Linked DNA regions of Homo sapiens: all the other regions are linked to region 2. The links come from fine-mapping of genetic effects on gene expression. A gene starts in region 2. Each other region holds a variant in brackets. All regions are shown on one strand. Distances are between the middles of the regions. Region 1 overlaps LINC01095 (long intergenic non-protein coding RNA 1095). Region 2 holds the start of REELD1 (reeler domain containing 1). Region 3 overlaps LSM6 (LSM6 homolog, U6 small nuclear RNA and mRNA degradation associated).

What was found. PIP is the estimated chance that this variant, and not a neighbour inherited with it, causes the effect.
Region 1: its variant is the best candidate, but not a certain one, in a credible set for the expression of REELD1 in whole blood (TOPMed, PIP 0.86).
Region 3: its variant is the best candidate, but not a certain one, in a credible set for the expression of REELD1 in whole blood (INTERVAL, PIP 0.81).

What each region holds. Positions count from the first base shown.
Region 1 is chr4:146,111,188-146,118,212 of GRCh38, reverse strand. It overlaps LINC01095 (long intergenic non-protein coding RNA 1095), which reads left to right. Exons shown (of 6, transcript NR_038331.1): 2 at 3,748-3,921; 3 at 4,457-4,571; 4 at 6,463-6,612; 5 at 6,740-6,902. Among named protein-coding and RNA genes, the nearest start is that of LINC01095, 7.2 kb to the left of the region's middle. The variant T/C (reference allele first, on the strand shown) is at 3,724.
Region 2 is chr4:146,211,518-146,218,542 of GRCh38, reverse strand. REELD1 (reeler domain containing 1) reads right to left here and starts at 4,005. Exons shown (of 8, transcript NM_001354631.1): 1 at 3,849-4,005; 2 at 3,345-3,467; 3 at 1,383-1,601. The coding sequence starts at 1,590.
Region 3 is chr4:146,178,118-146,185,142 of GRCh38, reverse strand. LSM6 (LSM6 homolog, U6 small nuclear RNA and mRNA degradation associated) reads right to left here. Exons shown (of 4, transcript NM_007080.3): 2 at 2,128-2,231. The coding sequence starts at 2,221. Among named protein-coding and RNA genes, the nearest start is that of LSM6, 5.9 kb to the right of the region's middle. The variant G/A (reference allele first, on the strand shown) is at 3,433.

The sequences.
Region 1 (7,025 bases), 100 kb after region 2:
GTGTTCTACTGACAAGCCTGAGAATTCAACAGATCAAAGCAAAATTCAGAATTAACCATTGCATTTGGTTTGCAGCTATTTTGGCCCTGCTGCAAGAGATTATTTTAGCATAGTTATATATGACTCCCTTTTTTTCTAACTGTGCTTTGGGCTGAGAATTTAGTGATTTGAGTTTGTTATTTTCTTTATTTAAGCTACTCCTGACTGTTAGTATTAATTACTTCACCCCATAGCCTCCTTGTGTGACTCTTTCCACCTATGCTATTCAGTGGCAGTGGCTACTCAGACCCCTAAAATGTCATTGTCTTACCCCTGCATGTCATAGACTAACAAATTCTCATTCTTAAATACTACTACTGAAATTTTACTGCCCTCATCCCCAACTTTCCCAACAATTACTCCCAGAATCCCTCCTTCTCCCCCTTCCCTGAGATGCTGGAATCACTCCTGGTTCTTATATCTGAACTAGCCAGGAATATTAGACATAAATTGGCTGTTTTCATTAGGTCACACTAAACCTAGAATAGGCTGGTGGCTTTCAAAAGAGACCCCCAAAGACAGTGGCTCAACCAATATAGGCTTATTTCTCTCTCACATAACAACCCACAAGAACACAGACCCACAAACATAGGAAGGTGGTTCTGCTACATAAAATCATCCAGAGAGCCTTGTTCCATCTTTCTAGGTGCCCTGTCATCTCCTCAAATGTTGCTCTTATTCACTGAAGCAAGCTGACTCCCCAATACCATGTACATACTGAACCCAGAAGAGGGGAGAAAAGAAGGAAGGATTGTGCATAGGAGTTCCTTTTGAAGAAGTGACATGGAGGTTAGACACATCACTTCTGCTCACATTTCCCTGATGAGAATTTAGTCACATGGCCATGCCTGGCCACAAGGAAGGTTGGAAAATTTAGTCTCTAAAATTAGAGCAATTATTTCCCCTTTTCCTTTTAGGAACAGAGCCTCCTGTTTTCACCAAACCTAACAATGATCAGCCACACTGACTCTGATTGAGTTAAGTAGAAAAGAAGTTTATTAAAAGATGACCAAGGAGCTCACAGAAACACCAGGAAATTTTGAGAAGGTTCAGAAAACAGGTAGAAGAAGAGAGACTCTAGGTATCTAGAACCCAAGTACAAATCATGCCACAAGAACATGAGCAATGGGCACTGCTGCTAATAGCACTAGACACTGGACATCAGAGCTTGCACTTGCCACCAGCAGAGGAAACCAGTGAATGTTACTTTATAGGGCAAAGGGGACTTTGCACATGTAATCTTGGAAGAGTATCCCGGATTACTTAGGGCTCAGTGTAACCACAAGGGTCCTTATAAGAGGGATGCAGGCGATCAGAGGGAGAAGTAGGAGAGGTGATGACCGAAGCAGAGATTGAAGTGATGCAGCCACAGGCCAAGGAATTCTGGCAGTCACTAGAAGCTGAAAAGGGCAGGCCCCAGCTCTCCTGAAGCTCTCAGAGGAAGCAATCCTGTCAGTTCCTTGATTTTAGCACTAATGTCAGACTTCTGACCTCCAGAATTGTAAGATAATAAATTTGTGTTCCTCACCACAATCAAGCTAATTAACATTTCCATCACCTCACATAGTTACCATTCTTTTTTATTTTTTATTTTTATTTCTTGGTATGGTAAAGACACTTGGGATCTACCCTCTTAGCAAATTACAGATATACAATACAACATGATCATTGTGTTGGTTTCAGCTTCAAAGGGTCAGGTAACCTGTTACAGCAGCAATAGAAAAATGAACACAGCAGCTTTTGCCTGGAGACTCTCCATTGGCCAAGCCAAGATTGTCTCAGAATTCTGCTGCACTCTGAGGCTCTTCCCACCATTCTTTGTTTCTCATTATCCTTTTACAGTTGTTAGACCTGTCTCCCAATCTAATGGCTCTCTCCAACTCCCACTCCCTTTCTCTTTATCCTCCAGAGCCATTTTCCCTAATGAATTTCTTTCCCTAATAAATCTCGAATCCCATCTTGGCATCTGCTTCTTGGATGTTCTCAACTAAATAATGCTACCAATCCTACTCTCTCTTGTGCCCCAGGAAACTGGAGGCTTTAGCTGCCTTCTACCCCACCACCCCACTCCTCAGAATAGACTCTCTACCACTCCTCTTCATCGGTTCACTAGCTTCCAATGCAAAGTCCTGGGGTGGTGCCTGACTGGCCAAGCCTAGGTCACATGCCCCCTCTCCAGGGCAGGAGGCTGGAAAAACAAGTCTCTGGCCTATTTGACCTCCATAGTGGAGGTCTCTAACCCTCATGGAGACTCATACAGTGAGGACATCCCTAAACATAAAAAGTGGGTTCATGTGCTACCAGGTACCCCCAATGTCTATGACAATATCCCTCCCTCAAATATTGTGAATCCCATCCTGTGTGAACAAGAAACATGTAGTCTTCTTTTGCAAGAACTTCTGAAGATTTGTCAGGGAATGCTTACACCAGCTCCGTGCTTCCTCTTGTCATCTCCCAACCTTATCTCTCTGTTAATCGGTTGCCCCCTGTGGACACCAGCTCCTCTCTTTATTCCAACATGGCTGACACCAGCCATAGAGAGTGACAAAACTTTACTGAGGGTTTGAGAATAACATGAGGAGTCATACCACATGCCTTAGTCCATTTTGCGTTGTTATCAAGAAATGCCTGAGGCTGGGTAACTTACAGAGAAAAAAGATTTATTTGGCTTACTATTCTGATGGGCTGGAAGGTTCAGGATTAGGCATCTGCCATTAGGACCTTGGGCTGCTTCCACTCACGACACGAGAGGAAGGAAGCTAGTGTATGCAGAGATCATATGGAAAGGAAGCAAAAGAGAGGTGAGGGTGCCGGGCTCTTTGTAACAACCAGCTGGATCGGGAACTAATGAGATGAGAACTCACTCACCCCTGAGGGAGAGTATTAATCAGTTCATATGGGATCTTCCTCCATGACCCAAACCCCTCTCATAAAGTCCCACCTCCAACACTGGGATCAAATTTCAACATGAAGTTTTTTGGGGTACAAACATCCAAACCACAGCACCACCAAAAGGGAGATAGAAAATTCTGTATCACTGCTCCTAAAGCAGATTGGTCATAACCCCATCGAAGGAATCCCTTGGAATTAAACTCTGCTCTTAAGCTCCTGCCTGCCACTGTGGTGCTAAAGTCCATTTCTCCTCCTCTCCATGAGCCCCCTGTTTTATCACCACTCTGCCCATCTCCACTCTTCCCTGGCCTGCTTCTTTCCTGAGGAAGCCATAAAATATATTAGAGAAAAAAAAAATCTCTGATGAGCAGCTTAGCTTTGCTCCATCTTAATCTGTTTCTTCCAGAATAGAAGCATGGCCCTATCTTTGTTTAACTAAAGAGCTTATATCGGTGTTTTTCAAATCAAAAGGATAGTCTCCCTGAAAATGAATTCTGCCTCAATCTCTAGAGTCAGAGGTGCAAATTCTAGGTAGATTTAAAAATAGCAGTGTCCCTAGGATGGTTAATTTCAGGTGCCAACTTGACTGGATTAAGGAATACTTAGAGAACTAGTAAAGCATTCTTTCTGGGTGTGTCTGTGAGATGGTTTCCAGAGGAGACTGGAGTGTGTGTCAGTAAACTGAGTGGGGAAGACCTGTCCTCAATGTGGGGGCATCATCCAAATGGCTGGGGGCACAGATAAGAACAAAAAAGGCAACAACAGCACATACACAAAAAGAGATTTTTTTTT[T/C]TCTCTCTCTCTCTCCTGGAGCAGGGACACTCTTCTCCTCCTGCGGTTGGACTCCAGGCTCTATGACCTTCAAACTCCAGGACTTACACCAGTTGCCCCTGGGCACTCAGGACTTCTGCTTCAGACTGACAGTTGCAGGACAGTGCAGCATTTTATTTTAAAGATACCCCACAACGTAGGTGGCCAGTCCTGCTGCAGGTGCGGTTTCAAGCCTTTGGAGTTTGACCTTCTAGTCCAAGGTCATTACAGCTGCAGGCAGAGGCTCCCGCGGGGAAAAGAGCATTTCCTGGGACGCTGGAACTAAATGAATGGCCCACTCTCCAGTTCAGCCCTTGCCTCCTTCCCGACACATAAAGTTCAAGAGCCACGGTCCTGAGTGCATAGGAACAGCCCCATCACCCTTCTCCCTCTGGGCAAGCTAGGAGCAGCGGTGCGAGGCTCCATTTCTTCTTCTCTGCCTCCTGGACCTCAGCCACCTCTGCTCAGGCACAGGCCAGCTGCCCAGGCGTCCTCATCTGGCGACCAGCTCTGACCGCAGCCCTGGTCTGCTCTCGGGGTCGGGCCCACACCCCTCTTCTTCCTCCTCTTCCTCCCAAGGCCTGGGCTCGGGTCCCTCTTCTCACCTTTCCCTTTCTTGCGTTGCAACCGTAACTTGGGAAAACCCTTCTTGATCTTCCTCTCTCACCTCCTTTCAAACACATGCTTGCAGGCTTTTTCCCGATCTCATCCTTAGGGCAGATACGCTCCCTTGATTCTGAGGTCTTTGAACTTGCTGTGAAGCCACACTACCTGCGTCCCAGGGTCTCCAGCTTGCAGATGGACTGTGGTGGGACTTCTCAGTCACCAAGGTCGTGTGAGCCAATTCCCCTAATACATCCCCTCTCATCTATCTATATCAGTAGAGATACCAATATCAGTACAGATATAGCTCCTATTGGTTCTGTCTCCCCAGACAGCCCTCACAAACACGGTTCCTGAACCCACCTCACACTGCTCCACCCCACACCCAGACAAACGCACACATAGAGGTAGGCAGGTAAATACATAGATCAATAGATTTATGTAAACTGTGAGCATCACGCCTGAAGAGAACTCCCTATTTCCACACCGTGTTGCCACAGCACTCCTACTTCCCACATCTGCCTCCAAATTGGCATTCTTCCTTCCATCTCTGCTCATAGGTCAGGCGACCCACCATGAGGTCACACCCCTTGCCGAGGACCACAGTTTCACAGACACTGTGCCTTCCAGCCACCCCGCTGTCCTGCGGCAGCCATGGGAATGTGGTGTTTCAGCAGTCCTCGCGGTGTTCCTCATGCTGACCCTGCTGAGTTCCAGCCATCTCACCGGATCCAGTGGCTTGGGAGTTTGGGTTCATAAGGATTTGAGCTCTGCTAACATCCCTGACAGGAAAGAAGCAGAGTAGCTTTTAGGGACAAACCATTCCAAGGAGAAGGATCACTGCACAAGGACCCTCTCACTCTCTCCCCAGAATCTCCCCTCTCTCTACAGTGCTCTAAATTCTGTCCTCATCACCCCTGCAGTGTCTCTTCCCCATTTCTCCTCTACCATAGACATAGACAAAGCATCACCCAAAAAGGGAGAGGGAAATATGACTGGGAATTCTTTAGAGGTGAGTGGAGTTAAGAACCTGAGCTGGATTCTTCTCTTTTACAAAGCAAAACTAACTAAATACATAAAAATTTAAATTTATTTTCCTTTCTTCCTTGGTCCAGTGAAGACTGGACTCTTCAAAGTGGACTTTGGTAAAAACAAAAGAGAAAGTTAAAAAAATTAAATTCTAAAGGCTAAATTTACACTATAGAGATTTTTAATAACTGAATTCTGGTAACAAGTTGGTTGACTCAAGCTAAGATTCTTTTCCTTCCACTTCTGCTTTCTTATTGTTGTTTTTGGTTTTATTTTTGCATTTGTGCTGTCACACACAGGATTTCTCCTCCTTTCATTTATTTCCACCAGCAGACCTGCACCAATACAAAAATGTGCCCTGTTAATAATAATAGCTGCTGTTTATTGATTATTTACCACATCCAGGTACTTCATGTAAGAATGCTATACTGTAGCTAATTAAGATAATCACAGAAAATTATCAATAGGTAACTTCGGTTACTATTTTCTACATGCTAGCTTTTATTCTCACTTCATCCTTACCATCATGCTAGGAGGATAGGTATTATTATCACCATTTTAGAGATGAGAAAAGTGAAGTAAATACTATTAATTTCATTTAGAAGATAAGTAGATGAGGCTTAATCACACAGTTATTAAGTGGCAAAGACCGGATTTGAATCAAGATATCTGATTTTTAAAATTCACCTTGTTTCAAAGCATTTTACTTCACCTAAGAAGTTAATACACCTCACAACCAGATAACTCCTTCTTTTCAATTAGACTGTGTCTGTATCTGGGATCAGTTGCGAAGCAGAAGTATGACGTGACTAAGGCCACCGCTGGGTTAGGATACCCCCATCCAAGGTCAGGTTCTTAACTTCACTTAGCTCTGAAGACTTACGATTAGTTTTTCCTCTCCCATTTTTTGGGTAGCCCTTTCTCTTCTTTTCTGTGGAAAAATTTGTAACTTACCAGAACAGTTCACAATATGACAACATTGTAGTGGTGACATCACAGAGACAGAAGGAGGAAGAATGGCAACCCTTGGACTCCTGGGGATGTGGGAGCTCCTTGACCACATGTGGTACCTCTCTTTCCTGATCCCAGATTGAGAGCTGTACTAGCCTGGCATGCAGACAGCAGCTTTAGAATCAGATCTGCCTTCTGGCGGCTTCCCACCTAGGAGCCATGGGACCTTTGTGAAGTCACCAATTGTGCTGTGGATGCTTCATTTGTGAAGGAGAACAGGACTGCCTTGTAAGTTGCAATATGCGTTAGAAATAGCAAATAAACAGTACTTAACTCATAGGAGGCCTGTGATAAATGGGAGCTTTTATCATAGACTGACTTTCCTGCTCCTGTTTTGCTTCTTCTTTATGTTTAGGTGAAATTACGGATGGTGCTACTAAAACATATCAATAATTTGAATTTCACTTTTGTGGATGCTTTAAACATCATAGTCATTAGAAGGTGGATCTGGCTGATTGTACTTTAAGTTTTCAGTTTGAGCTGGAGCTTTGTATTATAACAGGAGGGTACTGGACAAGGTGAGTTGCTGATAGCCTCCCCCCACCTGCCAACAGACCTATCATTAGATGGAATGTAATGGACTTTGGCCAGTTGTTCTCCACCCCAGCTCTGACTTAGCGGCTCTGGCAAGAATGGATATA
Region 2 (7,025 bases):
GGGTAAAACAATATTTATAGAGTAAATTTCATTTTTGTTTATCACCTTTAGTTCCTATCAAAAGAATCAGCAAAAATCAAGAGGGGTTTAGGGCAAAAGTTGCTGATGTGTTGGAGCTCACCTTGGGTGCATAGTTCTCTGCCTACACTTCGTGGCATCTGAAGTATCTGTAGCTTCCTTCTCTGCTGTCCCTCACTGCCACTTCCAAGCTTGGTCCAAGGTAAGCTGTGGACTCTGAAGAGTGTGTGTGAGTTTGGGGAGTGGGGGCGGGGCATGGAGGTAGAAACACCCCTGGTGGGGGCAACCCGAAACTGGTAAGTTCCCTGCCCCTGCATCTTCCTGAGAGATGATTCAGAGGTGTTTCACATGGCTTCTCAGAGGGTCCCCACTGGAATGCACCTCGGTTGCCCACAGCAGAGACCTGCTCAGTTGCACGCCCTTGACTGGCATCTCCTCTTGCCCAGCTCCCTTTCCCTCTTCCTCACCTGTGTTTCCTGGGATGATCTCTCACATAAACCACCTGCGCTCACGTTCTTTCCCTGCTTTTATAGGCACCTAAACTAAAAGAACAGGAAATGATTTTTTCATCCCCCAATATTTTAATTTAAAAAATGTCAAATTGTATATATTTAAAGTATACAACATGATGTTTTGATATACTTACACATAGTGAAATGGTTACTATAGTCAAGCAAATTAAAATATCCATCATCTCACCAAAGTGTCTGTTGATGGATGAATTTTAGTTTTAAATAATGAGAAAAAAGTGTATTTCACACACATAGATGATACATGAAGGTTGTTCAGAGTAACTATATTTGTGTCCGTAATAAGATACATTTATATCTTATGGTAAGGACAAAATAATTATCTATAATAATATTTGTGTCTTCTTATACAGATCACAATTAATACAGAGATTAGTTATCATGTGGTTTTTATGACACAAATATTTTATGCTTATTTTTAACCTGATAATTGCTTCTTAAGATTAAGCCAGGCTGGGCATGGTAGCTTGTGCCTGTAATCCCAGCACTTTTGGAGGCTGAATCAGGAGGTTCACTTGAGCCCAGGAGCTCGAGACCAGACTGGGCAACATACAAAGACCCTGTCTCTAAAAAAAATACAAAAAATTAGCAGGGCACAGTGGCATGTGCCTGTAGTCCCAGCTTCTTGGGAGCCTGAGGTGGGAGGATCACTTAAGCCCAGGAGTTTCAGACCAGCCAGGGCAACACAGTGAGACTCCATCTCTACAAAAAACAAAAAAAAGGGATTAAGCCAAATTTAGTCCAGGAAGCTTCTGACTGGGACAAACACAAACTGGAAGGTCCATGGGGGCTCTGGGGCTCCTCGGAGTCTCTCTAAGCCTCTCTGGTACATACCTGGAATCTTGTCACCTGGTGCATAGGAAGTCCTGTGGGTGTGGATGGTGATGTGGTGGCTGTCCTGGTGCTGAGGCTGGGCTTGGATGTGCTTGGGCTGCATGTCATCACAGGCCACCGTGCTGGCACCATGGGAAAAGGCAGATGAGCAGGAAGCCAGGCAGAGGGTGGTACAAGCCCAGCCCACGAGGGCAGCCTGCATCCTCATCCTGCCCTCTCCTGTATCATGACAAACAGCAGCTTCAGTCCAGACGTTATTTAGGAAAACGACATAAAGTCTTCTCGGGATGTGACTAACCTGAACCCCACACTGCCTCTGTACCTGAGATGCTTTTAGTGCAGCCTCCCAGGATTGCTAATGTTCAAGGCCAAGATCAAAAGGAAATGCCAGGCTATAGGAAGTGTTTCATTTCCAAACACCTTTTTAAAAACTTCTGTTCTTGTAATTTTCTCATAAGACCAGACTGCTTTTTTTGTTGTTGTTCAAAAGAGAGGCTTTAATTATTGAGTCAAAGAAATAAAACCAGAAAATGTTTGTATCCTAGCGTGAGCTCCTTGCAAGCTGACTGGTACCCAAAGGCGGTGTGGCCTCTGATACATTATCTGAAGTAGACACTCAATACACCACCATGGTCAGGCAGCATGGCATGGGATGGCTTGGCTGAGCATCTTATCTCTGTTGCAATTGAAAATTACCAAGTTAAGTGCTACAAAACATCTACCAACTATCAATTATTTAGAAGTGACTGTTAAGCTGGCAATGCTTTGATATCTCTTTGCCCTTTCTTTGGCTGTTTTTAGCTATTTCACTACTTTTAGTAAAGAAGATGAGCAGAGAAAGAAATACTCAATTTATTCTATAACTTCTTAAACATACTGATAACAATTTTGGCTCAGGAATAGAATACAATGATTGAATAAAATAGCATTTATAGAGTAAATTTTATTTTTGTTTACTACCTCTAATTCCCATCAAGAGGAAGAATTAAAATTTGGCAATGTAAAAGAAGATGACAAAAATAAAATGAGAGATAGCAAACAAGGCAGATGAAAATCTGCCTACATAAATATTTAGGATTATCACAGGCATTTTTTAACAGTTCTGTTTTAGGCCAGGTGCGGTGGCTCACGCCTGTAATCCTAGCACTTTGGGAGGCCGAGGCAGGTGGATTGCGTGAGCACAGGAGTTCAAGACCAGCCTGGGCAATACGGTGAAACCCTGTCTTTACTAAAATACAAAAAATTAGCTGGGTGTGGTGGCATGTGCCTATAGTCCCAGCTACTCGGGAGGCTGAGGCAGGAGAATTGCTTGAACCTGGGAGACCAAGGTTGCAGTGAGCTGAGATCATGCCATTGCACTCCAGCCTGGGCAAAAGAGCGAGACTCTATCTCAAAAAAAAAAAAAAAAGTTCTGTTTTTTTTTTTATAGTCCTGCACACAGGCATTTTAGAAGTTTGGCTAATTTTTTGACCTAAGGAACAATGCAAGGCAAAAAAAAAAAAAAAAAAATGCCCTCCCCTGTAGTCAGCTGGTTTTAAAAGGTGAAAATAAAATCCTGAAAATGTAGTAAAACTAGCTATCAGAACAATAGACTAAGGAAATAATCCATAAACCAAATAATCAAGTGTCCTCCACTCCCATTGTCTCTTCACACAACACCACCTTTTACATTCACAAGCTAAAAGAAGACAGGAATATGATCTATACCTCAAATTTCTTAGACATAAGAGTCCTTCAGACAATGCCTTTCTTTTCTAAGTTTGTTTTCTATGAAGCACCAAAGTCACACATCTCCATACTACAAGGAACCATGGCTACAGCTTCTCAGACACATTAGGAGATAATGAAGATGAACTGTGTAAAAGCACATTCTCAGTCAAGGGGGCTCAGGGTTCTTCTCATTTTCTTTCATAAGGGCCACATACAAAATGCCCCTTGAATGCTGGGCATGGTGGTGCGCACCTATAGTTCCAGTTGCTCAGGAGGCTGAGGCAGGAGGATCACTTGAATCCAGGAGGTCGAGGCTGCAGTGAGTTATGATCACATCACTACACTCCAGCCTGGGTACAGAGCAAGACCCTGTCTCTTAAAAGAAAAGAAAGAAATGAAATGAAAATGCTCCTCAAGTCCTTGCTGATGGCAAGTGGTCTTTCCAAAGGCAGATCAGACACAGTTGCCTACAAGGGAAGGGGAGTGAGTGCCTGGACTCACAGACTACGGCCACAGCCCCACCTCCCACCCTCCTGCCTTAGGTTTCACTGTGTCTTCTTTCCCACTAGCATCTTGTCTACCTGAACCCTGAAAACTATCCACTTGGAGCTGAGCATGGTGGCTCACACCCGTAATCCCAGCACTTTGGGAGGCCGAGGCAGGAAGATCACTTGAAGCCAGAAGTTCAAAACCAGCCTGCGCATCACAGGGAGACCTTGTCTCTACAAAAATAAATAAATAAAAACATCCACTTACCTAGGAACACAGTTTTCTTCAGGCTTGATAGAATGGCTTCCTCCCGCAGAGTTGCAAACACATCCCTTAAACATAAGTATTTTCTTCTCCTTTCAGTTTTTCCTCTAATGGGGAGAATAACAGCTGCTACCACTAATCCTCAGCATCTCCAGGAACTGTTCCTCAGTGTCCAAATCCAACCTAAATCGTATTAGCACACACATACACACACACACACACACACACACACACACACGGTTTACAGTCACATCATTGTTCAAGCCTGCGTGAAGAACTAGAAAGAACCGGAACTGGTTTTGCACAGGACTGGCACTGACATCCTTGGCAGAAGCTGGATGCCTCCATCTTGATCTCCCTGCAAAGGGGAGAATGTTTGAATGAAATGCATCTCAGCATTCTTGGCTTCTTGAGTCAGTGTGGACTGAAGTTACTCTTGGTGAAATAGAATTGATACGTTAGCCCAAGAGCAACGTTTGGTACAAAAAAATAACACGTGGCATAGGCACCTCCCGTATCAATTGCACTAAAGCTGGAGTTCACATTTTCATTCATCTAAGAATCTGCTGAGACACCTGATAATACCAGAGAGCCTATAGATCAGTGTTCCTCAATGTGTGGTCCCTAGAGTGCAACACCAGCATCACCTAGAAGCTTGCAACATTAACAATGAAGAAAAAGAGAGAGGAATGGATTTGGGAGATCAGGAGATCAGGTGGAGGTAGGATTTGGTGGCTGTTTGAATGCAAGGCGTCCAAGAGAGAATCCTAGGATTGATAGTCCTGGGTGATGTGGAGTAGGGGGCTGCAGAGAGAGCAATGTTCTGACTGTTAGGCCTTGTCTCCACTCAGAAAAAACTAAAGCTATGAGTGACTGAATAGGCAAGGCACTGGCTTAGGGACCAGGTTGCTAAGCCTTTTGTTGCAAGTGTAAATGAGACTATCTATCCTATAAACACCAAGGGAAATTGGGCTTCCTTGGCCTAGGATACCAGTATTCCCCACACACAGAACAAAAGCAAACAAATTCAATTTGGTTTCTCTAAGCTTCTATCCCACTAGGATTGGAGGCAATCTCAATCTCCCACTGAGTCATGAGAAATTCTGGGAGGTCTAGAAAATTAGGATACATTCCTTCCATGGCTGCTGTTATGATAGTTTTCAGAGCTCATGTGGTCACTTGAAGACTGTTAGTTGGAAGGCTTCTATGCCAAAAAGGGGCTCAGGTCTTCAGCAAGGCTGTGGCCTGGGTTCTTCCCACCCCCTCCACTGGGTCCTGACACAGATCTCTGCCCCTAGCAGGAGAGTGGCTAACCTCTTCTCCACTCCACTCTGCTCCTATCCCAGTCTTAGAGACAAAAGTGTCCCTCCTCTCCTTTTTTTTTTTACTCTCACCCCATTACCCTGGGCCACCTGGCATAATCCACCTACCACAGGTAGAGTGGTAATCTCCAACACCTCAGCTTTGCCCCTGAAACACAAACTCCCTGGATATACGGATTCTCAAAAGGCCCAACTACCAATTAGAATGAGGAGAGGAGTGCAAAGGTAGAGAGAGCGCACCTGCATGGCTCAATAAATAATCCTGCCATTTGCTCATGTAATATTTCTTGTTGAAAATCAGGAGGACACCATATCTTAGACATGGCCTTATCCTGCCTGCCACACCCACAGCCTCTGCTGAGCCGGCAGCGCATCTTATGCCACTCTCCCGACAAAGCTGATTGTACCAGGGGGGCATTCATCACAGGCGAGGGCCCTGCTGACTCAGGGCTGAGACAGAAACTCTCCCTGGGAATCTGACCAAGAACACATACAAGGCTACTCTATACGAGTGCTGGCCAATAGAAATAGAATGCAAGCCACATATGTAATTTAAAATTTTCTAGGCCGGACGCAGGGGCTCACGCCTGTAATCCCAGCACTTTGGGAGGCCAAGACAGGCAGATCACCTGAGGTCAGGAGTCCAAGACCAGCCTGGCCAACATGTTGAAACCCCATCTCTACCAAAAAATACAAAAATTAGCCAGGGATGGTGGCACGTGCCTGTAATTCCAGCTACTCTGGAGGCTAAGGCAGGAAAATTGCTTGAACCTGGGAGGTGGAGGTTGCAGTGAGCTGAGATCTTGCCATTGCACTCCAGCCTGGGCGACAGAGTGAGACCCTGTCTCAAAAACAAACAAACAAAAAAATTGGACTCTCCTTATTTTTAAAAAACGTGAAAAGGAACAAAAGACATTTGTTTTAATAATAAATTTAGTCAATTCAATATATTGAAAACATTTCACATGCAATCAGCATATAAAATATCATTAGTGAGATATTTTGCATTCTTTTTTTCACAGTAAGTCTTTGATATCCAGTGGTATTTTACACTTACAGCACGTCTCAATTCAGACTAGACACATCTCAAGTGCTCCGGAGCCACATGTGGTAAGCTGCTACCATATTTATCAGCGCAGGTCTGTACAAAGGAAGGTGGTTGAGCCATAGGTCATGGTGTGGGGTCAGACCTGAGGCCGTATTGTACCACGTGCAGGATGTGTAAGAGGCATTGAGGGGACAGGATAGTAATTAAACATAACAGCATATTTATATAATGCCTGCACAGTACCACACACTATTCTAGTCAGCTAGTTGGCAAATTACCTCATCGATACAGCAACACAATGAGGTCTGCACTATTGTTATCTCATTTTATGGATAAGGAAACTGAGTCACAGTGTTTCTGTAACTTGCCAAAAGTTCCCACAGCATTCAGGAAGTGATAGATAAGGTTTTTCCCTACAGTTTTGCTATAGAATAGCTTTGTAACATAATCTACAAGATGAAGATAACTACCAGTTCCTGTACCTGCATCCCGAAGTGCTGGTGAAGTTTCAGTGAGGTAATAAATAATAAGGAGTTGGTACTTAGTATGGGGTTTGAGACAAAGGAAGGGCTCTGTACCTGTTTTGTCTGGGGAAAGAGAAAGCTGGCTGAGCCACAGAGAGGGTTGGTGCCCACCACGGAGAGGAGGCGGTGAGAGAGTGTGGCTCTGAGCCAGATCATGCGCTAAGCCCGAAGCCCGAGAGACAGCAGTGAGTTGGCCTCCAATCCCCACCCACATGAAGGAGACCCAGCTGTGTGCACCCGGAAAGCAAGAAAATACTGTGTTTTGTTTGTTTGTTGCTTTTATTTT
Region 3 (7,025 bases), 33 kb after region 2:
TGGTCAACTTCACAATATATGTCAAAGTAGAAGAGTTGTTTATAGTGGCAAAAAACTGGTCAACACCTAAATGTCCATTAATAGGAAATTGGTTAACAGTAAAAGCAAAACCATGGTACAGCCACACAAGAGATTCCTATGCAGCCATTAAACCCTCTATATTATTACAAAACTAAATGTACTGTTTCAACGTTTAAAAAAAAAATCAGGTTGCATGTAGTTGACTCCATTTATGTCAAATTATGCTAATATAGAGGTCAAAATTGGTAAACTGTCTCTGGATAGTAGCATTGGGGATCCTTGGCTTTCTTCTATATACTTTTCTGTATTATTTCCTTTTACATTTCTAAAATTAAAACAAAACTAAAACATGTATTGCCTTTATAAATAGAAAAATTTTCCCTAAAGAGTACAGAGAAAAAAGGTCAGGCTGGTTCATCTCTTCAATAAAGTGGGTACTGAGAAGACATTGAACACAATGTCCTCACTTTAATCAACTGTCAAACAGATTAAAACCCCTAGAAGTCTATTACTTCCTATGGGCCCATCATCAAAAGTTCGCAGGTGAGAGGCAGTACACGGAGACATTATACTACCTCAGTATTCCGTATGAATCCATTAATTTTACTATAAAAATAAAATTAAACTGGAGATACGTTATTAATGTCAAGAAGCTAAAGGAGTACATAATCACCAGAGTGGTTTCTTAACAAGGCTTATGAGCCGAGCCTGAACTTGAGTCCTAGCTCCTCCTCTACTAGGTGGGGATAATCAATAGAGATTTCAAAGGAAAAAGCTCAAGAGATTACTATGACTATTAATTATTCAGAAAAGAGACCAAAAAAAGGCCACAAAAACCTGTGCTATGGTTTGAATGTGTCCCCTCCAAAATTCAGGTGTTTGGCAATAGGAGAGTATTAAGAGGTGGGGGCCTTTAAGAAGCAAGCAGACCATGGGGACTTGCCCATTAATGGGATGAAGGCCTGCATTAAAAAAAAGTCTTCACGCAGTGTGCTGGTTTGCCCTCTGCCTTCTGCCACGTGAGGACTCAGCATTCCTCCTCTCTGGAGGACGTAGCCCTCACCAGACAACTGAACCTGCTGGCACCTTGATCTTGGATTTCCTAGCCACCAGAACTGTGAGAAAATAAACTTCTGTTTTTGAAAATTACCCAGTCTAGAGGCGGAGCTTGCAGTGAGCCGAGATCGCGCCGCTGCACTCCAGCCTGGGTGACAGAGCGAGACTCCGTCTCAAAAAAAAAAAAAAAAAAAAGAAAATTACCCAGTACAGTGCTCAGGTGACGGGTGCACCAAAATCTCAGAAACCACCACTAAAGAACGTATCTATGTAACCAAAAAAACCACCTGTACCCCCAAAAACTACTGAAATAAATAATAAAAAAAATACAAAAAATGAAAATAAAAATGACCCAGTCTGTGGTATTCTGTTATAGCAACCCAAGAGACCACGTCCCTCTGCTAATGAATCAGTTATAGTTACACCTGCCAAATATTTCAGGTAACTTAACATACCTTAGCTTGGAAGATAAGAAATTCAGTAACTTTAAAAAACGGAATTTAAAACCATTCTTCCTATAAAGTTAATTTCAAAAGCACTGCAGCCTCTTAAAAATAATATTCTCTCCAAGAACAGAAAGGCATTTTTTTTTTTGAGACAGAGTCTCACCCTGTTGCCACACACATTATACGTTATATGAGTGGGACATTCAGGTTGTAAAATGATACTCAACAGCTGCTTGCCAATCTTGAATACTCCTGCAAAAACAAATGCTGCTGCACCAAGATGTTCTTCAGTTGTGTTGTTCATACCTGAGTTCACTAGGAATACCTAGCTATTACCAGGGAATTTAGGCACATATGATCTCAAAGCAGAGACAGGAGACAGAAGTCACACAAATCACACTGAAAGGCAGAAGCACATGCTATACTGTCAGAGTTGTCCTTCTAAAAGGAATGATCTCAGAGATAGAAAAAGATATATGCATAAAAACTACTGATGACCAGTACTTTTTTGGCCTATTGGGTATACTTAAGAGGTTAATAAATATCAGTAAGTCACATTTACTTATTCAGTTATACCAGTGAGGTTGAAACATGAAAATATTACCTCGATAATCCACTCCAGAATTTAATTTTACCACAACTGGTCGTCCGATGATTTGCTTTAAGAAGTCACTAGGGGTTTGCTTCCGAAGACTCATTTTAACAATCCTAAATCAAAATATGAAAAGGAACAATAAAAGGTAAAGACCAAAGTTGATTATTCAACAAAACCCTTAAAGCCCTTAACATACTTACAGAAAATGAAGTATCAAAGGACCATGCGAGAAGACGCGTATTACTCCACTGCTACTACATGACAGCTAACATGTTTTCAGTACTTACTATGAGCCAGATACTAAGCTAAACATTCTACATGCATTATCTTATCAGTACCCACAACACCATGGCACAGTCTCATTAGGGAAAGTCCTGTGTTTACAAAAGCACCTGCTCTTAATCACTTATCATTACTGCCTGACACATAGTCAGTATACCCATTACAACCATTACCACTTCCATTCAGTGAGTGGTTGGTTATTTTATGCAAAGCATTCTGCTAAGGTCTTTATAAACACTATCACATTTCATCTTTACAAGAACCATGGGAAGAAGGTCTTAATACCCTCATTTTGCTGATGAAAAGTAAAGGCACAGAAAGATTAAATAATTTGTTCCCAAATGTGATGGAACATTCAAGTTCAAATCAGCCCTATTTTAAAGTCCGTATTATATAGAACAGACATATTTATGAACAACTGATGCCTAAATGGTATCTCTGAAAAGAATTATAATCTAAAGGTAATTTTGAGTGTACTATATGCCAGCACTTTTCCAAGAACTTTATATATATTAATCAATTTAAATTGCTCTACCCTAAAAGGGAGGTATTGTTTTTATCCTCATTTTACACATGAAGAAGAAGACACAGAAAGATTAAACACTCTGCTCAAGGTCACACAGCTAGAAAGTGGATAGCCAGCCCATACTCTTAATCACAACCTTAAACAGCTTTCTGAAAGTCAATAACACAGTCAAAGATTTTTAATTACTCTATTAGGACTATAGCAGATATGTGCTCTAAATAATGAAGAAAAAAGTCTTAAAACTCAAGTATAACAGGAGTCTAACACAGAAAAAGAGATAGCATTACACACCCAAATCAACAGCATCAGACATGCAAAGCTGCACATCACTCCTTTCAAAACGCATCTTTTCTTATAAAATAGCTCTCTTTCAAAATATGTTGGTAAGTTAATAAAACTGTAGTTAAGCAAAAACTGAGTAAAAATATTTCAGAAATTAATTTTTCTGTTTCAGTCAAATTCAGCATCACTATTATTCAGCAGCTATATAGCACTGAGACTTAAAA[G/A]TTAGTATGGATACAATATTTTAAGGATTCCCTTCAAGAACTCAAGCTGTTCTTTTGTTTTCAATGAAATTTTTTCATTAAATATTCTTCCATTATTTTTTCATTAAACATTCTTCCACTATGCTTATTTCATTCTAAGTCCATCCACTCAATAATCTGAGTTTGTGTGGAGAAGGATTATTTGGAGACGTTCTCATAGTGAATTCACACGGGATCAGCAGTTGTAGTAAGCTGGAACTCTAGGTTACTGGGCTCAACAAATTACATGTACATGTACACACTGAGCAAGGAAATTCAAAAACATGTCATACACAAAGGCTCTGCCTTAAAGAACTTAAAATCTAGAAGAATTTAAACTCATTTAAAGAGTGTGAGTAAACAAACGCAATCATAATTTAAGTAAAATAATTTTATTTAGCCAAGAAAAGTCAACATCCTAAGTCAAATAAAAGAAAATACAAATTTCAGAAATTATCTTTGAATTTTGGGCTATCATTTGGACAATCTACACTGCCCCCAAGGTTTGAAAGATGTTTTTAAAATGCAATAAATTATTTTGCTCAACAAATGTTAACTTAACTTTTCCACTGAATTTCTAGCTTATTTTATTAGCTCCACAATCTCAACAGATAACTACAATTACAACTACTATTACAACTACTATTCAGGACAACCACTTTTCATTCAGGACTCAGATCACACAGTAATTTTATTTACACTGTTCTGAGTACAAAGTGAAAAAATACAAAATAAATACTGTAACAGATTCAGTACCTTTAATGAGTTTAGTGAAAATACACAAATCTTCCCATTCATCTATAAACCGCCTTATTTACATTTTGAATACATGCTGTTTTGAGGCTGAACACATCTAGAGAGAATATTAACTCTGAAGGCCTGATACTCAACTGATGAGTCAGGTGCATTTCCTATCACAGATGCTAAATCCCATTATGCCACAGTTTCATTATGTATAAAACTGAGATAAAAGTAGCTATTTTGTGTTAAAAATCACTAAAATGCTTTGTAATGTGATTCTAGTTCATGGAGATATTAACTACTTTAATTATTACTAATTTCATCTGCTCATAGAGTATTTACAGTTTCAGATTAAAAACATTTGAAAAGCAAAAGCTGGAAAGAGTTAATAACTGTCAGAAAAAAGAATGCAAATCTTGACTATCAGTTGCTTGACAGTATAGGTTATTTTAAAAGTATTATTAATATTAACTTTCCACACCTTTTTATAAACACAGATATGTTCTTCTAAGCTCACCAAAGATAACGCCTTGTCCATTATGCTTTATCTGTATTCCAATTAACATCAATCTCTTCCTGAAGGCAATCAACACTTCCAACTTTCACGGAGCACCTGTCAAGTTCAGGCGCACAGGGTTGGGGAATGTAACACAAAGACAAGGCCTTAAGCCCTCAGAGTTTACATTCCAGAGAGGGCAAGAAACATGTAAATGCAGAATTTTACAAAGGTGATGTGTATTCTGATAGAATTATGCACAAAAGGGCAGAGAACACTCTCTTACCCCAGGCTTGGCAGATCAAAGAATTTCTGGAAGTTAACACCTGAGCTGAATTTGAAGGAAAAGGCGTCACCCCCTAGCTGAAAGAAGAGAAGTCAGAAAAGGCACGGAACAAGTGTCTGGGTAGAACGTAAAATCTACATAGGCAAGGAGGAGACGCCTCTGCGGCAGGGAGCTGTGCCACATTCACAGGGAGCACAGAGTTGAGGCTCTGGGTCAGTTTCCCAAACTTGAATCATTAGGATCAGCTGGAGATTCTACTCAGTAGTTCTGGGGTAGGAGCCAGCAATCTATTTGAACAAGCCTAGGAAATAACTGGCAAGGGGAAATACTGTTGTCAATGATAGGAAACAGGGGTTTTAAGCAGGAACTTGCTTGGGTTCCACTCTCTACTTTCCATAGCAGAGTGCAGATGCCCATCTCACCTACTTTTGGCATCACATAGTTTGGCATTTGATTTTATTTGCTATAACCTGTCACTATGCCCTCTTTTGTATTCTTTATGTGGGTCTTTTCTCCCTCAAAATACTGTAAGCCACATGACAAGAGGGGCTCACAAGCTTCTCATCTGTTCTCTAGAATATCTACATTCTACTAAACCTCTTGGAAAAAAAATACTTCTAAGGTTATTTGGAAAAGAGTATATGGGTTGCCTCAAACACATTTTATCCATCACTTTAGGAAAGCCGTATCTTTTACATTAGTCTTCATTAGGCTTCCTTGCTACTCCCTGTTACTTAATGACTTGCCCATAAATCCATTTTGTATGAGTAAATTGGTCTTGACACCACAATTTTTCCCATCACTTGGCTCAAGTAATTTTAAGTTTTCATCTTTTAAATTGGATAAAGCAGAAGAAACAGTTCTGACAATTTCTGAAGCAAGAGATGAGTCTCTTGAACCATAAACACATAAGAGGAAAAAGACCTTTCTTCAGGGTCACCCTGGTAAAACTTCTCCTTTCAAAATTAAAGTCATAATCACTCTCTATACCTCCTCTCCCTCCCCTGACTCCTACTCAGGCTTGTTTTAAATGACCTATTTTCATAAATGACTATTAAGTCAAAGGCAGTATATTTTCTGTCAGAAGCTACTGAGAGGTCTAGTATGAAAACATCTGCAAAGTGCCCTGCAGGGAATTTTTTTCTTTTTGGTAAAAGAATGAAGAAAAAAAAGAACTTTTATTAACCCAACTATGTGCTACCAGAGTTAGATTCATAAGCAATTTACAGAGAAACCCTGTGAGGTGGAAAGCAAAGCCAAGGCTGACCCCAAAGCCCAAGCCCTTTCACAGGTACAGCTGCCCTTCTGAATATGTTAAGATTCTCTGGTTAAATCTTGGGGAATCGCAATAGAGGCGGTGAGAAATCCAGTTGGAGAGTAGCAGCACTGGGGAAAAAAAATACCTAACGTGACAAAGTGCTGTAAATTAGCCTCAGAGAAATACAATGGACAGATGCAAAGAAATCTATCTCATGTGATTTGAGTTATGCCACTGAGCAGAAGACATGAAAATCCTTATTTCTTGGCAATGTTTACCTGTAAGTTTTTACCTACTCCTGGCGTATTTACAGTTTAGGGTGAAAAGAATTTGAAAAGCAAAAATTGCAAGGAAACATTACAATCCAAGTAATTGCAGCACTAGACTAATAGATCAGTGTCTGAGGAGGCGATCAGATAGGCAGAAGAACAGCTCTCTAAATCCTCCCTTCGGACACAGTGGAGTTCCTCGCTGTCTTTTGAAGGCTTCATACCAATCCCTCCTTCCTCGGCAGCAGGGGCTACTTCTCTCCCTCTCTCCCAAAGGCGAAGTGAGTCCACTCAGAGCACCTCTTTCCACTCTCAGTCATGGCCCTTATCAGGCTGTTTCGTAATTTTTCCATTTGCTGACTGGTCTCCCGTGCGAATTTAAAGCTTCTTGGGGACAGGGAAAATATCTTACTCACTTGGTGTCCCTGGTACCTAAGCACACTACCCAAGTCTGTGGAAGAGACATTCAAGGCCAGTGCCAAGCAAAATCCCTGTCCAGCCCCCATCAGCCCAAACTATGGATAC